Regions from separate parts of the Homo sapiens genome. Here all the other regions are linked to region 2. Evidence: fine-mapped QTL for protein levels in blood plasma. A gene starts in region 2. Each other region holds a variant in brackets. All regions are shown on one strand. Distances are from middle to middle.

Region 1 (2,998 bases), 11 kb before region 2:
GTGGTGAGGGGGTCTGAGAGGAGCCCCATGCACCCCTCCAGCCACCCTCTCCTCCGCCCCTCATACCCCTGCAGTACTCGGCATTCCTCCACGCACTCCTGGCCCCGAAGGAACTGGCTGCAGTTGACACACTGGGTGGGCCCTGGACCCCAGCAGTGCCCTCGGGCGCACAGCTGGTGGCAGGCCAGGCCCTCGCCCACTGCAGTGAGGAGGAAGGGACCGCAGGGGACTTTTAGGGGAGGCCCCAGGTCCAAGTGAACCAGGGAACTGGCTGTGGGCATGGCTGTGGGCTGGAGGGGTGGGGACAGGTGGGGCCGATGTAGGGAGAGGAAGAGTTCTGAGATTTCAGAAACAGAGGGGGAGGGAAGGATGCCAAGGCAGGTAGGACCCAGCTAGAGAAGCCATGCCAAGAGGCCAAGCCAGCCAGAGCTGTGCTGAGTCAAGAAGGGTGCACAGAGACGGGCAGTCTGCACAAGTCCAAGAACGCTGCTGCCAGGGCCCCCTGGGCACTGCTGTGTGCTGGCAGATGGGGAGTGCGCACACTGGGCTCCCTGTCTTACCACACTCGTCCTCTGGCCGGTTGGCAGTGTGGAGCAGAGCTTGGTGCGGGTTCCGAAAGAGCTGGTCCCAGGGCACCGTGTGCACGAAGCAGAGGTGGGTGTTATGGTGGATGAGGGCCAGTCCACTGCCCAGTTCCCTCAGTGAGCGCAGCCCCAGCCAGCTGATGCCCAGCCCTTGCAGGGTCAGCGAGTAGGCGCCACTATGGGAGAAAGGTGGGCACCTTACCACGGACCCCTTCCCGGTCAGCAAAGGCTATTCTCATCTTCCTCCATCCCCAGCACACTCTGCAGACTTTCATGGAAAGGTTACTGCTACAGGAGTACTCCCTCAGGCCCAAAGCTTCCCACAGGGACTCCTCCCTGGGACTCCTCCCCATCAGGCCCCCTCTTTCTCAGTGCTCACTTGTGCAGAATTCGTCCCCGGATTACTTGCAGGTTCTGGAAGACGCTGAGGTCAGGCAGGCTGTCCGGCCATGCTGAGATGTATAGGTAACCTGCAGGCAGAGGGTGAGATTAAAGGAGTGGGGACAGGACAAGGACTCCCAGCCCCTGCAGAACAGGATGCAGAGACAGAGCCCACCTGTGATCTCTTCCAGAGTCTCAAACACTTGGAGCTGCTCTGGCTGGAGCGGGGCAGTGTTGGAG[G/T]CTGGGTCCCTGGAGGGGTCAGGAGAGGAGTCAGCAGGGCCAGGAACAGGGTGGACATCACTCCCAGCACTGGCCATGCCAGCCACTCCCCACCATGAATGCCTTCACTCAAACCCTTTGCCCATCGAGCCCAGCTGTTCCCATCCTGGGCTTCAAAGCCCAGGCCTTAGTTCGGCAACATCTATCAAAACAGTATTTATATCCTTTGATCTAGAAATCTTATTTCTGCCTGGGCTCAGTGGCTCACGCCTGTAATCCCAGCACTTTGGGAGGCCGAGGCGGGCGGATCACGAAGTCAAGAGATGGAGACCATCCTGGCCAACATGGTGAAACCCCATCTCTACTACAAATACAAAAATTAGCTGGGTGTGGTGCCGCGCGCCTATAGTCCCAGTTACTCGAGAGGCTGAGGCAGGAGAATCACTTGAACCCGGGAGGCAGAGGTTGCAGTGAGCCGAGATCACACTACTGCACACCAGCCTGGCGATAAAGCGAGACTCTGTCTCAAAAAAAAAAAAAAAAGAAAAGAAATCTTATTTCTAGGAATGTGGCCTAGGGAGACACTGGCCCATGTTCCCAGAGCCACACACAAAGTGGAACTGTTTGTAAGAGTGAAAATGGAACATGATCTAAATGTCTATTAGTAAATAGGGGAGCTGTTAAATAAAACCCCGAGCCACCCAGCCACATAATAAAAACCAACATTTAGGAGCACCTAGTATCTGCCAGGCACTGTTCTAAGAGCTTTACAAATATTAACTCATTCAAACTTTATAATCATCTGGCCAGGCATGGTGGTATAACCATCTTATGAAGTTGGGACTGTTCTTGCCCCCACTTTACAGATGAAGAAACTGAGGCACAGCACAAGGGTCACATGCCTAGTAAGTGGTAGAGCCGGGTTTCAAACCCAGGCAGTCTGGCTCCCAAGTCTGGGCTCTTAGCTGCCTCTCCTTGCCGCCACCTGCTCTGCAGCTATTGAAAGAACAAGGCAGTTCAATGGGAACTGTCATGACCGGCTCTCAAAGCAAGGTGCAGACAGTGCTCCCTATATGTTCCCATTTACAGAAACCAACCTCCCCACCAAAACGACGAAAACCACACTTCACTGTGTGTGTGTCTACAGATGCATAAACGGTCTAGGTGAACACACACACTGTTAACCATGGCCCCCTCTGGAAAGGGGAGTGGAGGTAAAGGAAGTGTGAAAGGGAATTTTTTTTTTTTTTTTTTTTTTGAGACAGGGTCTCATTCTGTCACCCAGGCTGGAGTACAGTGACATGATTTCAACCCACTGCAACCTCCACCTCCCAGGCTCAGGTGATTCTCCCACCTCAGTCTCCCTAGTAGCTGAGACTACAGGTGCGTACCACCATGCCCGGCTAATTTTTTGTGTTTTTTTGTAGAGATGGGATCTCACTATGTTGCCCACGCTGTTCTTGAATTCCTGGGCTCAAGCAATCTTCCTGCTTCAGCCTCCCAAAGTGCTGGGATTACAGGTGTGCACCACGGCGCCTGACCCTTTTTTTTTTTTTTCTTTTTGAGACAGGGTCTCACTCTGTCGCCCAGGCTGGAGTGCAATAGCGAAATCTCAGCTCACTACAACCTCCACCTCCCGAGTTCATGCAATTCTCCTGCCTCAGCCTCCCAAGTAGCTGGGATGATAGGCGCATGCCAGGAAGCCTGGCTAATTTTTTATATTTTTTAGTAGAGATGGGGTTTCACCATGTTGGCCAGGCTGGTCTTGAACTCCTGACCTCAAGTGATCTGCCTGCCTCGGCCTCCCAAAGTGC
Region 2 (9,059 bases):
CCCAGCCTGCATTCTCACGATTGAATTATATGTGCTGACGCAAGCTACAACTTCCCAGGAAGAAGGGGAATCTTTTTCCAATCTTCTGAGGGCGTCTTCCCGGGCTCTGCCTGCGTCTGCCCAGAAGGGACACCATTTCTAATGCACACAAAGCCTCCCCCTGGTTAGCAGTGGCCCTGGTCAGCTCTGAATAACCAAGAGAAGGTTTCAATGACGGTGAAGGCCACCTGTGAGGCTTCGAAGCTGCAGCTCCCGCAGGCCTCCTGGGGAGGCCCCTGTGACAGGGGTGGTATTGTTCAGCGGGTCTCCATTGTCTAGCACGGCCAGGGCATAGTTGTCCTCAAAGAGCTGGGTGCCTCGCACAATCCGCAGCCTCTGCAGTGGGACCTGCCTCACTTGGTTGTGAGCGATGAGCACGTAGCCCTGCACCTCCTGGATATCCTGGGAGGGGGAAGCAGAGTGGGGCTGAAATAGGAACACTGCCACCCCCCAGGGCCTCCCTGGGGTTCCCCAGTACTTGGAGATCTTGGGCAAGGCCCCCAGCCACTGAGCAGTCCTGTTCCCGCTTAAATAAAACGATAAAATAGAGATAAAGATCACGCCCTACCTTGCCTCACCAGATTCTTATATGATCAAGAAAGATAATGGTGGGGGGGCATTTCATAAACTCCGAACAGGTGCCCTGCCCTCTCTGTATCTCAGTTTCTTCATCAGTGAAAGCAAAGGCCTGGATGGGATGGCGTCTGCAAATTTTTTTTTTTTGAGACGGAGTTTCACTCTTGTTGCCCAGGCTGGAGTACAATGGCACGATCTAGGCTCACCACAACCTCCGTCTCCCAGGTTCAAGTGATTCTCCTGCCTCAGCCTTCCCAAGTAGCTGGGATTATAGGCATGTGCCACCATGCCTGGCTAATTTTGTATTTTCAGTAGAGACGGGGTTTCTCCATGTTGGTCAGGCTGGTCTCGAACTCCCGACCTCAAGTGATCTGTCCGCCTCGGCCTCCCAAAGTGCTGGGATTACAGGCATGAGCCATCGCACCCGGCCGGCGTCTGCAATTTGACAAACCAAGCATGTGGCCCCATTCCAGGGTCTGTGGACACGATCCAGCAGGTTGGTTTCCACTCTCCCTCCTGTTCATAACCTTTTCACAGACATTTCTCTTCTGAGCTTCACAACTGCTCCCAATATACAGATAGGGAAACTGAGACCCAGTGAAGCTAAGGGGGTGTAGGCCACATTCATAGGGCTCGTCAGTGGCAGAAGTGGGCCTGTAATCCACCTTTCTCACCAGCCCTTTCTTCTGCTGTAAGTGGGAGAGGGATAGTGGCTGGAGCAGGTGGACAGGGGACATGATCATGCTGGCAAGAGAGCACAAGATTTAGCGGAAACACAGACGCATCCCATCCAGACATGACCTCGGCCAGCCACGTTATAGAGAGAGTCAACTGATTCTGCAGTAAAATGAATGGGGGTTAGATGTTAGAAAGGACTTCCTGGTTGAGAAACCACAACAAGAGAGGAAACAGAAGGGCAGGGCACCTTCTTCTGCCACCCACCTGTAAACAGAGGGCTCAGCCCAGCTGGAGGCAGGGCCTGGCTGGGTTGCCCACGGGCCTCACCTGCAGGAAGGACAGGCTGGCATTGGTGGGCAGGTAGGTGAGTTCCAGGTTTCCCTGCACCACCTGGCAGCCCTGGTAGAGGTGGCGGAGCATGTCCAGGTGGGTCTCGGGACTGGCAGGGAGCCGCAGCTTCATGTCTGTGCCGGTGCACACTGGCAGGAGAGAGCAGATGGGTCAGAGGACACTGGCGGGGGACCTTCTCAGACCTGGCCACCCCATCCAAACTCACTCCAAGTCATGCCACCTCAGACAGGGAGAAGCCTGACTGAAGGACCCCTCCGCCCATGTCCCTTGCACACTGCAGGTTTAACAGCAGGAGAAAGCTTGCGTGCTTGGGAAGTAGAGGGATTTCAGGGGAAAGGCTTCTTCTGACTAGGCCCACCCTGTGCATTCAGAGGCTGCCCCAGCGTGCCAGCCCTGGGGAGCTCGCCCGCCAGTACAGGGTGTTGGCTGGCAAAGAAAGGCTTCCTTTGTCCCAAAGGCACAACTCAGGGCAAAGGGGTAAAAATCCCCCAAGAGAGGCGATGACGAATCATGAATCTTCTGGATACCCCCTGCCCCTCTCCCAAGCAAACAAACTCGGTGCATTCTCCCTATGCCATTCCAGCACACCCACATGCCAACCTCTTGGCAAGGGATCCACACCCCCGTAATGCCACCCAGAGAGTGGGGAAGGAGGGTCAGCTGGAGTTGCAGCTGAGGCATGGGACAACCGGGGCTCTGGTCATTGCAGAGACCTCTGGGAGTCCCCCATGAAGAGAAAAGGAGCGTCAGATTCCAGTTGTGGGCATCTGGACCCAGGCTGCAGATCCCAGGCCAGGGTGAAGCATGCGCCAAAGGTTCCTGCGCTGGCACCCTCACCCTGGCCACCTCCTCAGGGCAAGACTCCAGAACCAGCTGGCAGAATGTGTGCCACGAAACTGCTGCCACAAAGGCACTACGTCAGCCCTGCATACCTGCCCAGCGCGAGCCATCAGCCATGGGGCATAGGGCTGAACTGCCACACCTGGCCCACTTGGACCCCAGCCTGGTATCCCTGAGACCAGAAATGCCCACTAAGGTCAGGAATACTAGAGGAGGTAAAGCACCCCTGGTGAGGGGCGCCGGGGTAGCAGCTCACACCAGGCCTGCCAGTGAGGGGAGATTAAAGTGCCCAGTTGAACTTGTTTTTCTGCTCTGGTGAGATGAATCACCTGGCGTGTCTTGCCCAGGAGATCGGAAGGGTGGGGGCAGAGGGCACCCTCAGGCCCACAGGTGCCTGAGCTGCCCAGAATTCCTGCCGGTCACTGCTCCGCCTCCCACAGGCTACATGCAGATTCAGGGACAGCACAAGGGCTGGCTTGGGGTCTGACACCAGAGGCACTGCTCTCCCAGCAAGTTGGAGCCTAAGGTCAAATCCTAGGGGGTAATACGAGGTACCCCCTGCCTTCAGATTGCTGGGAGAGGCTGGTAGGGCAAGCCCCCAGGTTCCCTGCCTGGGCCAGTGGCCAGTGGCCACAAACTGGTGGTCTCCTAGTGATACTCAGAATGGCCTCTATTCCCACCTCTCTAGGCAGATAAGGACAAAGAGGGAGGAACAGGAGGGAGGAACAGAAATAGAACTCAAGGGTCCATGTCCCTGAGGGAGGCCTCCCCACTCCATGCCTCACCCACTTGCACCCCCTCCTCTTCCCCACACTTCCTCCCCCAACAGACTCCCAAGAGAAACAGGAGCTGGGGGTGGCAGGCCAGGCCCAAAATAACGCCCTGCTGCCAGGACCTCCCCCGGCCTCAGCCCTTCAGCTGCTTTATAGACACAGCTGTCTGCAGGCCCAGACCCCAGGCCCTGGCCCAAGCCCAGGGTCTCCACAGGGCTGGGGCAGGGTCCGACTCCACCCCCTGTAGCCCTTTTCAAGGGATACCAGCTGTGGCCGCCAGGCAATAGGAAAACAACAACAATGGGGAGTGGGGGCCGCCACAGTAACTGAGCTGAGCACCTACTGTGTGCCTGGCAGGCACTCTCGGTGGATCTGCATAACATGCTCCAGAGACTGGGGCTGCAACCTCCATCTTGCAAAGAAGACAACTGAGGCTGGCAGGGGTTAGCTCTCGCCTCATAAAGCTTGTGAGCAACAGGCAGGACTGGAACTCAGGCTGGCCTGCCTTCAGATCCCACATTCCTTCCACTAGGCCTAACTGCACACACACAAATCCACCCCACACCCCACGCCAACATAAATACACACTAATTCTCCCAATGCCACCGATAAACACCACAGGCTCTACGGAGGGCAGGGTGGCTGGGCTGGGTTGGGCTGGAGGGTCAGAACGGGTGGTAGCCCCACCCCACTAGTGAGTTTGTTTACCTGATTTGTGGCCAATTTGAGTCTGATTAAGAATCTTAAAGTGTTTGCAGACAGGTGGTAAAATTGGTACCCTGAGAACGGTTCCCAGGGAACTGGAGGCTTGCTGGCTAACACCCCCACCAGCCTACATGAAGTCAAGAAGGTCTTCCTGACACCTCCCTCCCACTCTCCCATCTCCTTACCATTGTCCCCATATCTGCCCTGTCCCATTGGTTTTCTTTTTTTGAGATGGAGTCTCGCCCTGTCGCCAGGCTGGAGTGCAGTGGCGCAATCTCGGCTCACTGCAACCTCTGCCTCCCGGGTTCAAGCAATTCTCCTGCCTCAGCCTCCTCAGTAGCTGGGATTACGGGTGCCTGACACCACACCTGGCTAATTTTTGTATTTTTAGTTGAGGCGGGTTTCACCATGTTGGCCAGGCTGGTCCTGAACTGCTGACCTTGTGATCCGCCCGTCTCGGCCTCCCAAAGTGCTGGGATTACAGGTGTGAGCCACGGCACCTGGTCCCCGTTGATTTCCTGGGGGGTAGGTCCTAATTCTACCCAGGAGTGTCCTTGTCTCCAGGACCCTGCCCCTCAGGAACCCCAACCTCCAATTCTCCAGAGCAAAGACAGTATGAGGCAGGACCAGCCACAGGGAGCGCTAGATAAGTGTCTGCTGAGTGAATGAATGAATGAGTGGATGAATGAAGTCCAGTCACGAGTCTCCGAACAAAAGGGACCAGTTGAGGTCATGGAATCCATCTCTCTGCTCAGAGCTGGTCACAGTCCTTCATGTCTCTCTGGACTCTGGTGGTCAGGACTTGACCCCAGTCCTGAGGTTTCTCTCAGGTGGGTTCTCTCCTCCCCACCAGCTTGCAGCCCCAGCTGCTCCTCTTGCTCACAGCAGAAAAGCCAATACTTCCCTTGGTTTCCATGAATACTACAGTAAAATGACCTGTGTCCCCAAAGCTCAGCTCTCCCAGACCCATAATGTCACAGCCCATTCAAGTGACACTGGGATTCCCCGACCACAAACACCTGGTGTATCAGGCCTGACATCAGACCAGGGCCTGGGCCCAGGGTCTTTAGTTGAGAACCCTAGCTCAGCTGCTCACTGAGTGATCTTGAGCAAGTTCCCAGACCTCCAGGGCAGAAGCTAAATCGGATTCATCTCTATGCCCTGCAGTACCTGCAACTTGGTGAATATTTACTGACCTAAACTTGGCTGTAACAGCTCTTACTCCCTCAGAGGAGGTACATGAGAGTTAAATGAGGTAATGAATTGCGCAGCCATCTGTAAACATGACGAGGCTTTGTAAACAGAACTGGGACAACACAAACATTCGCTAGAATAATTCTCCCACTCCTTGAAAGAGTACACATCCCTTACCCCACCTCGGCTCTCTTCCCAGGGGGAGGATGGGTGGCCAAACATAAGATGGAGATGTCACTCTAGAGGGGCTTCTCACAGGTGGAGGGCAGGGAAGGAATCTCTTTCCAGATCATTCCATCACCCAAGGACAGGCACAACTACCCTGGGCCCCACCCCAGCCCTCCCAGCCGCAGCCCCACACTGGCCCCTCACGCTGACACTTCAGCTGTCTCTCTCACCCACAGCCCTGTGTGTCAACGTGGCCTCTGTCCCCTCCTGCCCGCAGCCCCCTGTCATGCTGGTAGGGCCCAAAAGGAAGACAGGCATTGGCTGGACAGGAAGGGAGAGGACTCTGAAGTCAAGAGGGAACCTCAGGGCCCCCAGCTCAGCTCCACTTTCTACAGCCTAGAGAAGTGGATGGAAAGGTCATTCGCCTGAACAAGAGGAGCGCTTCTCCTCCCATCTGGCCACCTGCCTGCCCCTAAGGCTTTGTTCAACCCATTATTGTTGGCTGGAATAAGACTCTAACCACCTCTTAATGCCTCCTCTTCAGAGTCCAAAAATTCCCTGGACATTACTGGGTAGCTGGGAGCCTTGGATAAGTTGCTTCATTTCTCTGAACTTCCATTTTCTCATCTGTGCACCTACTTCACAGGACTGTCACAGAGATTAAATGAAAGCATGGATAAAAACCTAGCATATAGGAAGTACACCGTACATTTCTTAAAAGTTAAGACAAGACAGGTTCATACAGCAGGAATATGGGTAATCCCAAACCACGAGAAAATTAAACATGCTTTGTGTTTGACTTTGGAATGCCACGTATTTTTTCTTTTTACATTTGATCCCTATCTTTTCAATTGTTTTTTTCTTGACAAATAAAATGAGTACTTTCCCCAAGTATAGTAAAGAGAGGAGGCTGTTGGAAGAATCATACTGGAATTAAAATATGAAGGAGTTCTGCAAGATTAAAAGGATGTATTTGCTGCAATTTGTAAAACCCATACCTCTAAGAAAGGATTTCAGAAAAATCCTGACCCCTCTGGGGCTCCCCCTAGGCCTCCCCTTCCCCCACATTCCTGCCCCAGACCTCACCCCTTGGGTAAAATCTGGGTGCTGGAGGCAGCTGGGTGGTATACTTTTTTTCTGAAACGGAGTCTCACACTGTCACCCAGGCTGGAGAGCATTTGCAATCACAGCTCACTGCAAGCCTCAACTTCCTGGGCTCAGGTGATCCTCCTGCCTCAGCCTCCGGAGTAGCTGGGACTACAGGCACGTGTAATCACATCCAACTAATTTTTGTATTTTTTGTACAGAGTTTTGCCTTGTTGCCCAGGCTGTGCAATGACTTTTTAACTAACTCCTGCACAACACAATCAATAGTGCAGGTTGAGGGGTGAGGACATGAGGAGGCCCCATCCAGAGAACCCAGCCCTCAAATCCAGCTCTGCAGCAACTGCCATTCCCTGATCAACTCCCAGCCCAAGGTGAGGAAGGGCAGCAGCTCAGCCTGACAGCTCAGTATGGCCTCACCCTTCTCATCAGAAGATGAGAGGTGAAGATGCTTGTCTGGGAAACAGGGAGGGCAAGGATGTACTCCCTGGAAGAGAGGAACCTTCTTCCTCAGCAAGAAGGCGTGGCCATAGAAGGCTACCTCCCTCTGTTTATGGCAGATCTGGCCCAGCACCTTAAGGGAGTTCCTGCAGAGGACAGAGTTCAGCCTGTGTCCCCAAGTCAGCAGAGAGACTGCTGTTTGGCAACACAAAGCCCAGACACACAAATACAAAGACCACACAACTGAGGAACACCCTGGCGTAGACCTGCAGAGATAACACGGCCATGCACTCACTCACAGAGGGCCCCTCGGGCAACACACAGCCACGATGACACCCACTCCCTCCCCAGACCCTCTGACCTATGGAGACCACCCACGACTCCCAGAACACTTTCATTTTGTCTCCCCTGCAGCCCAGTGACTCAGGGAGCAGTGTCCCTCATTGCTCCAGGTGCACTCATCCATATAGCGATTTCGAATGCATGGTTGGGGGTCGCACTGCCTGGGGTCCCATCTTGACCCCACCACTTACTAGCTGCTACTCAACCTCTGGACTGCTACTCAGTCCAGAATGCTGGCAGAACTTCCACTATAGGGGTGTTCTAGGATTAAAGGAGAATGCATGCAAAACACCACAAACAGTTCCTGGCAGAGTATACCTGGCCCAGGCTATATGTTAGCTTTTATGATTAATGCACACAGGTGGACAGATGGGTCAGGATACACACTGCCCCCACTCACCCTTCCCCACGCACAGCACCAAGGAAAAGGCAGCAGAACAACGCAGCCCTCCCTAGGCTCCCATCTGGCCTTATTTCTTAGCTTCCTTCTCTGGGAACTCTCCCACTTTACACCCCAAGAAACCCACCCCCACCCCTCCATGGTCCACGCGCTCCAAAAGTCACAGAGCACAGTCCCTAAGCTGGCCCCAAGAATCTGTTCAAAGCAAACGTCTCCCCCGCCCCCAACCCAGACCCCAGCAAGAGGCCACCCTCCGGGCCACCCTTTCCTCCCCGGCTCTGGTTGGGACAGGTTGCTATGCCACCCTCCACTCCACCACACACACACACACCCGACCCCGCCAGAAGCAGGAGCAACCAAACCAAAATCGTCTGAAGGGGAGCGGGGAGGGGCTGGAGGAGGGGCAGGGCAGAGGACCCCCCCAAGGAATCCAGCCCAGGCCAGTCCGGAGGCGGAGGCTGCCAACTGGAAAGGCTTTGAGAAAGCTTGAGGGGGCTCAAGAAGGGGGGAAACGCGCGCGCGCGCTCTACGCAATACACCCTTTGCGGGAAAACTTTCTGAACAATTTCAGAGAACTTCTTTGACAAGTTCCCGGAGCCCCTCGGAGCCTGGAAAGCGCCAGTCTCTTGGATGGGCCATCTCGAGCCGCTGCCGTGTAACTGCCCCCTCCCGCCCGAGGGCCCCAGGGCCCGGCTGCCCTGAGCGTCTCGACTGTCCACAACTTCGGGATAGGAGAGCTCGTCCGGGCCCCTCTGGCCCCGCCGGCCGCGGGACCTCGGCGGGGCATCCACAGGGCAGGGTCCCGCCGCTGCTCCGTCCCCTCCCCACACCAGACCCACCTTGGGTGCTCGCGGCTCCGGGGGGCAAGAGGGCGAGGAGGAGCCCCCAGCGGCACAAGGCCGCCAGCTCCATGGTGCTCACTGCGGCTCCGGCCCCATGGCTCCGGCTGGACCCGGCTGGGAGGGCGCGGGGCGCGGGGTGCTGCGAGGGGTGGGGGCCGGGCGCGCGGCGCAGTAAAGGGCCCCGTGGGAAGGGGCGCGCGGCTGCCCGGGGGGCTCCCCTGGTTTCTCCGGTCCCAATGGAGGGGAATCTCAGCTTCACAACTTCATTCTTATACTTCCTCAAGCAGCCCTCCTCCTCCACCTCCTCCTTCTCCTGTGATTGGGAGCAAGCGCGCTCCCAGCTCGCCCCCTCCAACTGCATTCCAACAAGTCTGGGAGTGGCAACTCCCAGCTTCACTTTCTCCCTCTCTTCGCGCAGGCCTGGGTGCGTCCCTCCTAGCGCCGGGACGCCTGGGTTGCCTGCAGCCGTTCTCACACTTTTCCTCGGAGAATCCCTAAATGCAGAGGCTGGTGACTCTGCCCCCTCCCCCGGAGTCCGGGATAAATTCCCTAGGCTGCCACTCTTAACACCCTTTTAAGTCTCAGGTTTTATCTTAAACTTTCCTG
Region 3 (12,403 bases), 130 kb before region 2:
AGCAACTAAACAACTAGTCAAAAATTAGTATATCCATAGATCTGAATGACATTGTCAACTACCTTGATTTAATTAACATTTATTAAACAGTACACTTGAGAACTGCAGAATACCTAGAAGCAGTTTCTCCACTACTTATTGAATCTCCCCCTGTTTCTGCCCACCTGCCTCCACTCCCGCCTCCACCATGTCCATCAGGGTGACCCAGAAGTTCTACAGGGTGTCCACCTCTGGCCCCGGACCTTCAGCAGCCACTCCAACATGAGTAGGCCTGGTGCCTGCGTCAGTTCCTCGAGCTTCTCCCAAGTGGGCAGCAGCAGCAGTGTCCAGGGTGTCCTGGGTGCCAGCATGGGTCTGGGTGGAGGCTATGGCCGAGCTGGTGGTTATAGGAGGCATCACAGCCATCATGGTCAACCAGAGCCTGCTGAGCCCCCTTAAGCTGGAGGTGGACCCCAACATCCAGGCCGTGTGCACTCAGGAGAAGGAGCAGATTAAGACCCTCAACAAGTTTGCCCCCTTCATCGCGGTTCCTGAAGCAGCAGAACAAGATGCTGGAGACCAAGTAGAGCCTCCTGCGGCAGCAGAAGACAGCTTGGAGCAGCATGGACAACATGTCCAAGAGCTACATCAACAAACCTCCGTGGCAGCTGGACACTCTAGGCCAGGAGAAGCTGAAACTGGAGGCAGATCTTGGCAACATGCAGGGGCTGGTGGAGGACTTCAAGAACAAGTACGAGGATGAGATCAGTAAGCATACAGAGATGGAGAATAAAATTGTCCTCATCAAGAAGGATGTGGATGAGGCATACATGAATAGGGTGGAGCTGGATGGAGTCTTACCTGGATGGCAAGCTTACAAGATCAGCTTCCTCAGGCAGCTGTATGAAGAGGAGATCTGGGAGCTCCAGTCCCAGATCTTGGACACATCTGTGGGGCTGTCCACGCATAACAGCTGCTCCCTGGACACGGACGGCATCATTGCTGAGGTCGAGGCCCAGTATGAGAAGATCGCCAACCGCAGCCAGGCCAAGGCTGACAGCATGCACCAGATCAAGTATGAGGAGCTGCAGACCCTGCCTGGGAAGCACAGGATGACCTGCGTTGTACAAAGACGGAGATCTCCAAGATAAACTGGAACATCAGCCGGCTCCAGTCTGAGACAGAGGGCCTCAAAGGCCAGAGGGCTTCCCTGGAGGCCGCCATTGTGTATGTGTGGGGAGCGGTCCATTAAGGATGCCAATGCCAGGGGGTCCAAGCTGGAGGCCGCCCTACAGTGGGCCAAGCAGGACGTGGCGCGTCAGCTGCTCAAGTACCAGGAGCTGATGACCATCAAGCTGGCCCTGGACATTGAGATCGCCACCTACAGGAAGTTGCTGGAGGGCAAGGAGAGCCAGCTGAAGTCTGGGATGCAGAGCATGAGTATCCATATGAAGACCACCAGGGGCTACTCAGGTGGGCTGAGCTCAGCCTACAGGGGCCTTACAAGCCCTGGCCTCAGCTATGGCTTGGGATCCAGCTTTGGCTCTGGCGGGGGCTCCAGCTCCTTTGGCTGTGCCTGCTTCTCTAGGGCTGTGGTTGTGAAGAAGATCAAGACCACGATGGGAAGCTGGTGTCCCAGTCCTCTGATGTCCTGCCCAGGTGAAAGGCCATAGCAGCCCCTCCCAGCCTACCCCCTCCCATGGCTTCTCCAGAGCCTGTGGAGGAGGCCACTGTGCAGGGGAGTATAGGGAACAGGAGACCCACCTGAGGCTCAGCCCTAACCCTCAGCCCACCCATGGGGAGTTTACTGCCTGGGATACCCCCCTTGCCCATGCCTCCAGCTACAAAACAATTACATCATTTTTTTTTCCTCCAAAATAAAGCCTCAGCCAGATCTGCAAAGCAAAACAAAACAAACAAAGAAAACCAACAAAAACCAGAACATACATATGTCTCAACTACACATGGCACATTCACCAAGAACACCAGTCTTAATACTTTTAAAAGGACTACAGTCACACAGACTGTGTTCTCTGACTGTAGTGCAATGGAATTTGACTTCAATAACAAGTTAGCTAAAGAATTCCCGAATTCCCCCAAATATCTGGAAATTAAACACTTATAAATAACCAGTGGATCACAGAAGACTCGAGGGAAATTAGAACTGAATTATAATCAAAACATCAGCATTTATGAGATGCAGCTAAAGCAATGCTTACAGGAAAACTTATAGCTTTAAATGTTTACAATTAGAAAAGAAGAAAGGAATAAAGTCAGTCACTAAAATTTCACCTTAAGAGGGCAGAAGCAGAGTAAGTTAAGCCCAAAGTAGAGGGAAGAAGCACTTTTGAACAAGTTCTAGTTTCACTGTGTTGAAACTAGATATATGCCTCCTACCCTATAACCCAGTAATTCCACACCTAGGTATTGACTCAAGAGACATGAAAGCATATGACCACAGAAATACTTGTGCAAGGATGATCATGCTCCAGTCTAATCATGAGAAAAACAAACACATCCCAGTTGAGGGACATTCTACAAAATACCTGACCAGTACTCAAAACTGTCAAGATCATCAAAACAAGGAAAGTCTGAGAAACTGTCCCAACCAAGAGGAGCCTAAGGAGACAAGATGACTAAATGTAATGTGGGATCCTGGAAGGGATCCTGCAACAGAAAAAGGACATTAGATGAAAACTAAGGAAATCTGAATACTTAGATAGTAATAATGTATGAATATATATTCATTAATTATAACTGATGTACCATACTAATATAAGATGTTAATAATAGGGGAAATTGGGTGTGGGGTATATGGGAACTCTCTGTGCTATCTTTGCAATTTTTCCATAAATTTAAAACTACTCTAAAATTTAAAAGTTTATTATTTTAAAAAGGAATATCATAGTAGTTTGACTTATAAATAGCCCAAACTGGAAACAGTCTAGGTGTCCATCAATAGGAGAATGGATAAACAAACTGGGATATTCATATGGAATACTACTTAGCAATAAAAAAGAATGAACTACTGATAAACACCACAGAATGGATGTATCTCAAAACATTATGTTGAGTGAAAGAAGCCTCGGGCAAAATAATTTATACCATATGTCTGTGTGATTCTGTTTTTATGAAGTTCTAAAATAGGCTAAACTAATCTATGGTGGAAAAAGTCAAAACAGTAGTTGTCTCTGGAGTATGTGGGTGGGAATTGACTAGGAAGAGATGTGAGGGAGCTTTTCTGGGATGATGGTAATGTTCTGTATCTTGATAGGGGTTTGCATTACATGAGGATATGCATTTTTAAAAACTCATTGAATGGTACACTTAAGATCCATGCATATCACTGTATGTAAAATTTACTTTTTAAAATCTTGTAAACAGATATTGAATTTTAGTTAATAATAATCATGCTGAAATGTTAGGACTGAGGTATACTGATATCTGCAACTTATTTTGCAATGCGTTGAAAAAGCTGGATCGATGAATGGATTGAGAGATGAATGGGTGGAAACATATGTGAGAAAGCAAAAATAGCAAAATGTTAATTGTAGAATCCAGAGGGTGAGTAATGGATGTTCAACTGTGCAGTTCTTTTTTTAAAATTTTTTATTGATACATAATATTTTACATATTTATGGGGCACATGTGATATTTTGTTACATGCATAGAATATATAATAATCAAGTCAGGGAATTTGGAATGTTTATCACCTTGAGTATTTATCATTTCTATGTGTTGGAAACAATTCAAGTCCTCTCTTCTAGCTATTTTGAAATATATAATACGTCGTTGTTAACTATAGTCACCCTACTCTGCTGTCAAACATTAGAGCTTATGCCTTCTATGTAACTATATGTTTTACCCATTAACTAATCTCTCTTCATCCCCCATTCCCACCCACACACCCTGTCTATCATTCTACTTTCCACCTCCATGAGATCAACGTGTTTACTGTCATATATGAATGAGAACATGTGATATTTGTCTTTCTGTGCCTGACTTATTTCACTTAACATAGTGACTTCCAGCTCCATCCATATTGCTGCAAATGACATGATTTTATTCTTTTTAATTGCTGAATAGTATTTCATTATATATATGTACATATATATGTACATATATATATATATACCACTTTGAACTCTTTTTTTCTATGTGTTCATAATAAAATATTGGGGAAGAATAAAGAATATATGAAATTATTTCTAATGGAACCCACTTTTTGCATATTGTTCTTGGTGTAAGTAGATCTCTGGCAGAAAGTTCTTAGAGTAACATTGCTGCATCAATATTTTTTTTTCATGCTCCTTGAAAGGCTTTTAGGGAGAATATAGAGAAAGAGTAATCTTGCTCTGAAAGAGGAATTCTGCTGTTAAGTTTTCCGAAATGGTATCCCTTATTAAATTTGGAATGCTCAAACCTGTAGAAATGTACCCTAAGTAGCTAATATTTATAACCTCTTTCTTTTCAGATATACAAACAAATGCGGAACTGAAAAGCACTCAGGAGCAGTCTGTGCCCGCAGGTAACATCAGGTCTTTCCTCTCTGGAAATATACCTTTACTAAAAAAAATACCAAAGAGAGAGGAATGTGCTTATTCTGGTTGCAGTAAAAATGCTATGGAAATGTGTGTGTGTTTTTTTTTAAATATGGTTGTCTGTTGCTGATGAAAAAATAACTCATCCATTTAGATCATGTAAGTTCTTTAGCATCTTAGGGCCAAACATACACTACCTAATGTTGATCACTGTTTGTTTGTTTGTTTGTTTGTTTTTGATTTTTCAGCTCATTGCTCTGAAGACAGTTTTTGTTGAATAATATAGTAGCTTGTATTTGAATGACTTGCGATTTTTACTGTAGAACAGTGGTCTGCAAACTTTTTTGTAAAGGGCCAGATAGTAAATATTTAGACTTTGCAGGCCACATATGGTCTCTGTCACGTATTATTTTTTGTATTTCTTACAACCCTTAAAAAATGTAAAAACCATTCCTACCTCTTGGGCCCACACAGAAGCAGGCTATGGTCAGACTTGTACCTCAGGCCATAGTTTACTGATCCCTGCTCTAGAATAAATTATAAACATTTACAATAATTTATTTCCTGAAAATAACTTCTGTGTCCTCCATTGATTAACTCACTGTGTGAATCAAAGCTTACATTATATTACAAAATTTAATTTATCACTGAAATGCCTTTTTGTGTTACTGTAACTTGTAATCACATCTTTCTTTCTTTCTTTTTTTTTTGAGACGGAATTTCGCTCTTGTTGCCCAGGCTGAAGTACGATGGTGTGATCTCGGCTCACCACAACCTTAGCCTCCCGGGTTCAAGCCATTCTCCTGCCTCAGCCTCCTGAGTAGCTGAGATTACAGGCATGCACCACCATGCCTGGTGTATTTTTAGTAGAGGCGGGGTTTCACCACGTTGGTCAGGCTGGTCTCGAACTCCCAACCTCAGGTGATCCGCCCGCCTCGGCCTCCCAAAGTGCTGGGATTACAGGCATGAGCCACCGCACCCGGCCAATCACATCTTTTAACTGAACCTAAATCTCATATTAATTGTTTAGGTGTCCACTATATTTTAGTCATTTCAGGCTTGAGAAAAGTGAACCATTGTTTAGAATGGTATCTTAGAGTTCACAGAGTATACATCATAATATGCAGAAATTAGAAACTTCAGATATTCATAAATCAAACACTGAGTCCATGGTGACCACATTTTCAGGGGCTCTTAGTGATGGGTTTTGTGAAACGTGTTTCTCTTTCGCTCCCGCGTGTGTTTGGTCATGGCTCAGCTGAAAGGAGTGCCACTGCAGAGCTTCTAGTTACCTCCCTACTTCAGCCCAGCCTCAGTGCCACAGGATTCAGTGTCTTTGACTATTTTTTATATTAATGGGAACTCAGCAAATATTTTATTGAAGATTGGGAAGGAGTTAGATAAAAAGAGGGTAACTTTTCAGTTCATTTCTTCTGCTATCATCTTTTTGTTAAGCTACTATGCCTATATGTGAAAATAATTCCAGTTGCATTGTTCCTTTTTCTTCTAGTATTATCAATATTTATTATACATTTCTCTTAAACTTATTTTGTAACAAGTTTGCTGTTTGTTTAAGCATGTCTTTATTATGTCTGCTCCCTTTCACTTATGAACTTTAATAACACTTTGTATTTCCTTTATTTAATCCTTTGTCTGAGCCTACCATGTGTTAGAGTTGTGGGCTTCTCTTATCTATATCTCAAAGTATGAGCTCCTTGAAGACATAATGACTTATTCATATCTGTAGCCTTGTCAACATTCAGTAAATGTTCAAACAAATAAAGAAACTTGGGGTCCAATATGTTTTCCACAGAATCACATTTATAATGTGAACAGAAGGGAAAAACAGAATTTGGCATACAGAAAGCTTACAGATCTTCCTCCTAGGAAAGCATCTTTCCCAAATTAGGTTATGCCAGTGTTTGCACGCTTAGTATTTCTGGTCACTACTTTGTCATAAATAGCAATGGCATCCTACTGAATATCGTGAGATATACCAATGGAGAGATAGTTTTTCTCCAGAAGGAACATGAGTGCCCTTTAACTCAGATGAAAGAAATATTCAAGAAAGTTGTGTGTATTCAGAGGGTACATGAACCCTGGGCATATTTCTTTTCTCTTTTTTTTTTGTTTGAGACGAAGTCTCACTCTGTCACCCAGGCTGGAGTGCAGTGGTGCTATCTTGGCTCACTGCAACCTCCACCTCCCGAGTTCAAGTGATTCTCCTGCCT[C/T]AGCCTCCCGAGTAGCTGGGATTACAGGCATGCACCGCCATGCCCAACTAATTTTTGTATTTTTAGTAGAGATGGGGTTTCACCATGTTGGCCAGGCTGGTCTCGAACTCCTGACCTCAGGTGATCTGCCCATCTCGGCCTCCCAAAGTGCTGGGATTACAGGCGTGAGCCACTGCGAACCCTGGGCTTATTTCTAAACCTCAAGAGTTTTCATGTATACATCCCTTTTGGGTATGTGTGAAGGGGTACTATCTGTCACTAAAGGATTGTGTGAAGCTGAAAGTTAAATGGGGGTCTACTTAATATATATTTATAAAAATCCTTTAACGTTGAACCACATACTTAAAATTCCTTTTATCTTTTAGAAAGTGCAGCGGTTTTGAATGACTACAGTTTAACCAAATCTCATGAAATGGAAAATGTGGACAGTGGAGAAGGCCCAGCCAATGAAGATGAAGACATAGGAGGTGAGCCGTAGTGTGCAGACTAAACACTGATGCCTGTAGATATTGCTTAGGCTTAGTGTAGAGAAGAAATCAGCTCTCCAAGGAAAACTTGCAATTGTAGGTTTAGTTAGGAGTGATTCTGTTTTGTTAATTTCACAAATATTTGCATTTCATAGTTGTAGGTTATCAGCAAATTTTGAGAATTTAAGGTGCTTATCCAGTGTTCCAATTATATTAACTTCACTTAAAACATGATGTTTGACTATTTTCCATTATAAAAGTAATACATGTTTATTGTAGAAAGTTTGTCTGGGGTGTTTTCTGACACCAACAAACCAATTTTCTGGTTTTCCGACAATGACTTGGTGTCCAACAATTCAATTCAATTATTATTATTATTTTTTTTTGAGACGGAGTTTCACTTTGTCGCCCAGGCCAGAGTGCAGTGGCGCAATCTCGGCTCACTGCAACCTCCGCCTCCCATGTTTTAGTGATTCTCCTGCCTCAGTCTCCCAAATAGCCGAGATTACAGGCGCCCACCACCATGCCCGGCTAATTTTTGTATTTTTTTTAATAGAGACGGAGTTTTACCATGTTGGCCAGGCTGGCCAGGAACTCCTGACCTCAAGTGATTGCCAAACTCAGCCTTCCAAAGTCCTGGGATTACAGGCATGAACCACCATACCCAGCCCACTTCAATTCAATTCTGATTGTAATTCCTGATGTTTGCGTAGACCGCACAGGTTACAGGCTCAGTCTCACAGTACTGCACAGTACTCTCCCTACTTTAGACAACAGTCTCAAGTACCAGGTCCCCAGGTTACCTGCACTTTTGTCTGACTTAGCTACAAAATCGGGGACTCCCCTCCACATGTTTAATAATTTGCTAGGATGACTCACAGGACTTGTTACATAACTCATTTATTCATTCCTTTACTCTCAGCTACTCTTCCTCCTTCTTACTGTTTATGCCCAAACTTTCCCACCTTTGGGAGGAATATTAGGTTTGACCACTGCACTGGTCTAGATCGTAGGCAGCAATACTAGTCTAGCAAGCACCTCTCCCTCAGTCAACTCCCATACATACAGGATAGGGTTACACAGGTACGGAACTAGTGGGCTATTTCTACCACTAGGCAATACATCTGCATTCAATGTTAACCCCAATTTTGCCAGATGGGGTAAAGGCACAGCCTGCCTCATCAGGCCCTTAGGAGTTCTGACATAAAGGTTTAAAGCTACGGTTACACTTTCTTGCTTTAGAAATCATCTCTGTTTCTGGCACTTGTAATTACAGTGCTGGTATTGCAACCACTGCATCTGGTAGGAAAGAGAAAGCTGATGTGACAATGTAGGGAAGGAAAAAAAGAATAGTCATCACACCAATATCCTCCTCTTTGGCAAGAATTGTATAGTCATATCAGCATCCTCCCCCACCTCCTCTTCCCTAATCCACCAGAAAAACAGAGGAATCTACCTAGTGGGAACACTCCCTTAGCTCATTTCAATGTGACCTCACACTTGTGCAAATGCATAAACCAACCCTTCACACCTATACCTTACCCTATTTTAGATATCTATCAAACTACTACTCTGAGGAGGATAGCTCTTTGCCCATTGTTTGACATTATGGGCTGTAAGTAGAGTGCTCCTTAGTCTAAAGAAATGTGGCTCAGCCATTCAAATTGGTGCAATATCTTCTGTTCTGGTTCTTTCGTGGTACTGACCATTTGTGTATACAACCAGGTAAGCAAAGCCCCTTCCAGAGTCTGTGTTTATCCCCGTCAAAAACAATTTATAGGTTGGGTGCAGTGGCTCACACCTGTAATCCCAGCACTTTGAGAGGCTGAAGCAGGAGGATCTCTTGAGCCCAGGAATTTGGGCCCAGCCTGGGCAACATGGTGAGGCCTCATCTCTATAAAAAAAAATTATAATAATACAAATAAATTAGCCAGGTGTGGTGGTGTGTGCCTGTAGTCCCAGCTACTCAGGAGGCTAAGGCTGGAGGATCACTTGAGCCTGGGAGGTTGAGGCTGCAGTGAGCTGTGATCCTGCTACTGCACTCCAGCCTGGGCAACACAGTGAGATCCTGTCTCAAAAGAACAACAACAGGCCGGCCGTGGTGACTCACACCTGTAATCCCAGCACTTTGAGAGGCTGAGGCAGGTAGATCATTTGAGGTTGGGAGTTCGAGACCAGCCTGACCAACTGGTTAAACCCCATCTCTACTAAAAATACAAAAATTAGCCAGGTGTGGCGGTACTCACGTGTAATCCCAGCTACTGGGGAGGCTGAGGCAGGAGAATTGCTTGGACTCGGGAGGCAGAAGTTGCAGTGAGCCAAGATTGCACCACTGCACTCCAGCCTGGGTGACACAGTAAGACTCCATCTCAAAAAAAGAACAAAAACAAAAATGATTTGTAGCCCTTGGGACTACCAGCATTGGCTCTTCAATGCAATCCACTTGCCAACTATGTGTGGGGTCTTCCCCCTGGGGAATCTTCCCCATAGTCACCTATAGTAACTGTCTCTCTTATTGGCAGACATAATAGTTTGTTGCTATTTTGTGCCTCAGGAGGTCCAAGGGAAATATGTCCAAATTCAGCCCATCTTCTGCAGTGGCTGTAGCATCCCCCATCCTGTCTACTCATTTTATGGACCCACGTGCTCACCTCAAACACGCACACTGTGATACCTACTAATTGGTTCTGATCAGCTTCCAAATCTGGAAGGGGGGTCTTTTACCGAGCATTGACATGTCCTACTTTAATGCACCCCTCAAATTCCCATAGTGATTTCCACAGGGCTTTGTCCCATATGAGAGTCCCTTTAATATGCCAAGTTTCCATTGCACTCTTGCCTTACCACATGGCCAGGCTGTTGGCCATTGCCCATGAATCAGAAACTGAAACATATGGGCATGTATCACTGTTCAGTTCTTCCATCACTTCTAGGAAAACAGCAGATTATTCAGCTCACCAAGCTGATTTGTTTTTACCTTCTTTAATTACAGTTGTGGTGTTCCAAACAGGATGTTGTCCATTTACCTTAAAACTACCATCCACAGCCAGGCATGGTGGCTTATGCCTGTAATCCTAACACTTTGGGAGGCCAAGGCAGGAGGATTGCTTGAGCTCAGGAGTTCAAGACCAACCTGGGCAATATAGTGAGACCTCGTCTCTACAAAACATTTAAAAATTAGCTAGGCATGGTGGCATATGCCTGTGGTCCCAGCTACTTGGGGGACTGAGGTGGTAGGATCGTTTGAGCCTGGGAGGTTGAGGCTGTAGTGAACCCTGATCGTGTCACTGCTCTCTAGGCTGGATGATAGAATGAGACCCTGTCTCAACAAACAAAAAAACTACCGTCCACAAATCAAGCATCTCTTTGTTGGTCAAAGACTACTTTATAGGGCACTGTCTAAGTGATGATAGAATCCAGCAGCTCCTCACATAGTTCCAAAGTCAATTGTAGGGGAAAAGAGGATCCCTGCCCCTGAGTATATCATCCTTTCATTCCTAAGGTACCATGATTCTCTATAAACTATTTCTATGTTATTATAGAACTCTTCTGGGCAATGCTCTCCCCATTAGAACACTTCTCTGACATCACCCAAGACTTCGTTGATATTTTAGGTTTTAAAATTATTTTTTTGTCCTTCAATCATAAGAGCAATTTCAATTAATATTCAATAGCAGGCTAATAATTTCCCCTCAAATGGAAATTCTCTGGTCCAAAATCCAATTGTTGTCATTGCTGGAAAGTACTCACAGGTTTTTGCCATAAGCCATTACCCAATTCTCACACACCAAGCCTATATTTCACCTACCCTAAGTCATCCCAGGGCCAGATACCAGTCAACCAGAGACCATCTCTATGCTTTAGAGCCCACCAGAATTATTAAAACTAGCCAATCCTAAACTGTTTACCCAGCCCTGCCTTGCCTTTTCCACAGAAACCCCAATTAAGGCTCTGACCTAAGGTTTTTCCTCATTCCTCTTTTCTGCCTCCTGACCAACACTGGTGCTTTCTCCTGTGATCTTGCATAGCACATAATAACCACCTCTCTGGGACCTGTGAATGTGATAAACTTCTTTCTGGGCCTTGTTCTAATTTTCTTTGTGTCCACACTGACTTTACCATATCATATCTGACATGTACATTCTTAAGACACCACTTAACCGTGGCATTTACCATGACCTGGTGTATTAGTCTGTTCTCATGCTGCTATGAAGAAATACCCAAGATTGGGCAATTTATAAAGAAAAGAGGTTTAATTGACTCACACTTCCAAATGGATGGGGAAGCCTCAGAAAACTTACAATCATGGCAGAAGGCAGCTTTTCACAGGGTGGCAGGAGAGAACGAGTGCCAGCAGGGAAATGCCAGACACTTATGAAACCATCAGATCTTGGCCAGGTGCGGTGGCTCACACCCGTAATCCCAGCTCTTTGGGAGGCCGAGGCGGGAGGATCACGAGGTCAGGAGATCGAGATCATCCTGGCTAACATGGTGAAAACCTGTCTCTACTGAAAATACAAAAAATTAGCCAGGTGTGGTGGTGGGCACCTGTAGTCCCAGCTACTTGGGAGGCTGAGGCAGGAGAATTGCGTGAACCTGGGAGGCAGAGCTTGCAGTGAGCCAAGATCACGCCACTGCACTCCAGCCTGGGTGACAAAGCGAGACTCCGTCTCAAAAGGAAAAAAAAAAAAAAGCCATCAGATCTTATGAGAACTCACTCACTATCACAAGACCAACATGGGGGAAACCACCTCCATAATTCAATTACCCCATTATTCAATCCCACCGGGTCCTTCTCACAACACGTGGGGATAATGGGGGTTACAATTCAAGATGAGATTTGGGTAGGGACGCAGCTAAACCATATCATTCTGCCCTGGCCCCCATTCAAATCGCATGTCCTCATATTTCAAAACACAATCATGCCTCCCTAACAGTCCCCCAAAGTCTTAACTCATTCCAACATCAACCCAAAAGTCCAAGTCCAAAGTCTCATCTGAGACAAGGCAAGCCCCTTCTGCCTATAAGTCTGTAAAATCAAAAGCAAGTTAGTTACTTCCCAGATACAATGGAGGTACAGGCACTGGGTAAATATACCCATTCCAAATGGGAGATATTGGCCAAAACAAAGGGACTACAAGCCCCATGCAAGTCCGGAATCCAATAGGGCAGTCATTAAACCTTA

Alleles and levels. Positions count from the first base shown, and alleles are read on the strand shown. Strength reflects both the effect of a copy and how common the allele is.
For the plasma level of the protein whose gene starts at base 8,698 in region 2, allele T in region 1 goes with a lower level than allele G (weak association).
For the plasma level of the protein whose gene starts at base 8,698 in region 2, allele T in region 3 goes with a lower level than allele C (weak association).

The links. PIP is the chance, under the fine-mapping model, that this variant and not a neighbour inherited with it causes the effect. The UK Biobank Pharma Proteomics Project read protein levels with antibody pairs (Olink). The fine-mapping took linkage between variants from a reference panel, not from the people measured, so its PIPs are less certain.
Region 1: its variant is fine-mapped to the plasma level of the ERBB2 protein (UK Biobank, PIP above 0.99). The variant lies in the coding sequence of ERBB2. If it changes the protein, the assay may bind it differently, which can mimic a change of level.
Region 3: its variant is fine-mapped to the plasma level of the ERBB2 protein (UK Biobank, PIP above 0.99).

The regions. Positions count from the first base shown.
Region 1 is chr17:39,713,502-39,716,499 of GRCh38, reverse strand. ERBB2 (erb-b2 receptor tyrosine kinase 2) reads right to left here. Exons shown (of 27, transcript NM_004448.4): 10 at 1,141-1,214; 11 at 964-1,054; 12 at 561-760; 13 at 67-199. Among named protein-coding and RNA genes, the nearest start is that of MIR4728, 11 kb to the left of the region's middle. The variant G/T (reference allele first, on the strand shown) is at 1,206.
Region 2 is chr17:39,699,703-39,708,761 of GRCh38, reverse strand. ERBB2 (erb-b2 receptor tyrosine kinase 2) reads right to left here and starts at 8,698. Exons shown (of 27, transcript NM_004448.4): 1 at 8,451-8,698; 2 at 1,621-1,772; 3 at 228-441. The coding sequence starts at 8,523. RefSeq lists enhancers at 3,096-3,968, 6,715-7,214, 7,215-7,716.
Region 3 is chr17:39,824,202-39,836,604 of GRCh38, reverse strand. IKZF3 (IKAROS family zinc finger 3) reads left to right here. Exons shown (of 8, transcript NM_012481.5): 2 at 4,454-4,507; 3 at 7,117-7,218. It also overlaps the pseudogene KRT8P34. Among named protein-coding and RNA genes, the nearest start is that of IKZF3, 34 kb to the left of the region's middle. RefSeq lists an enhancer at 710-1,209. The variant C/T (reference allele first, on the strand shown) is at 6,752.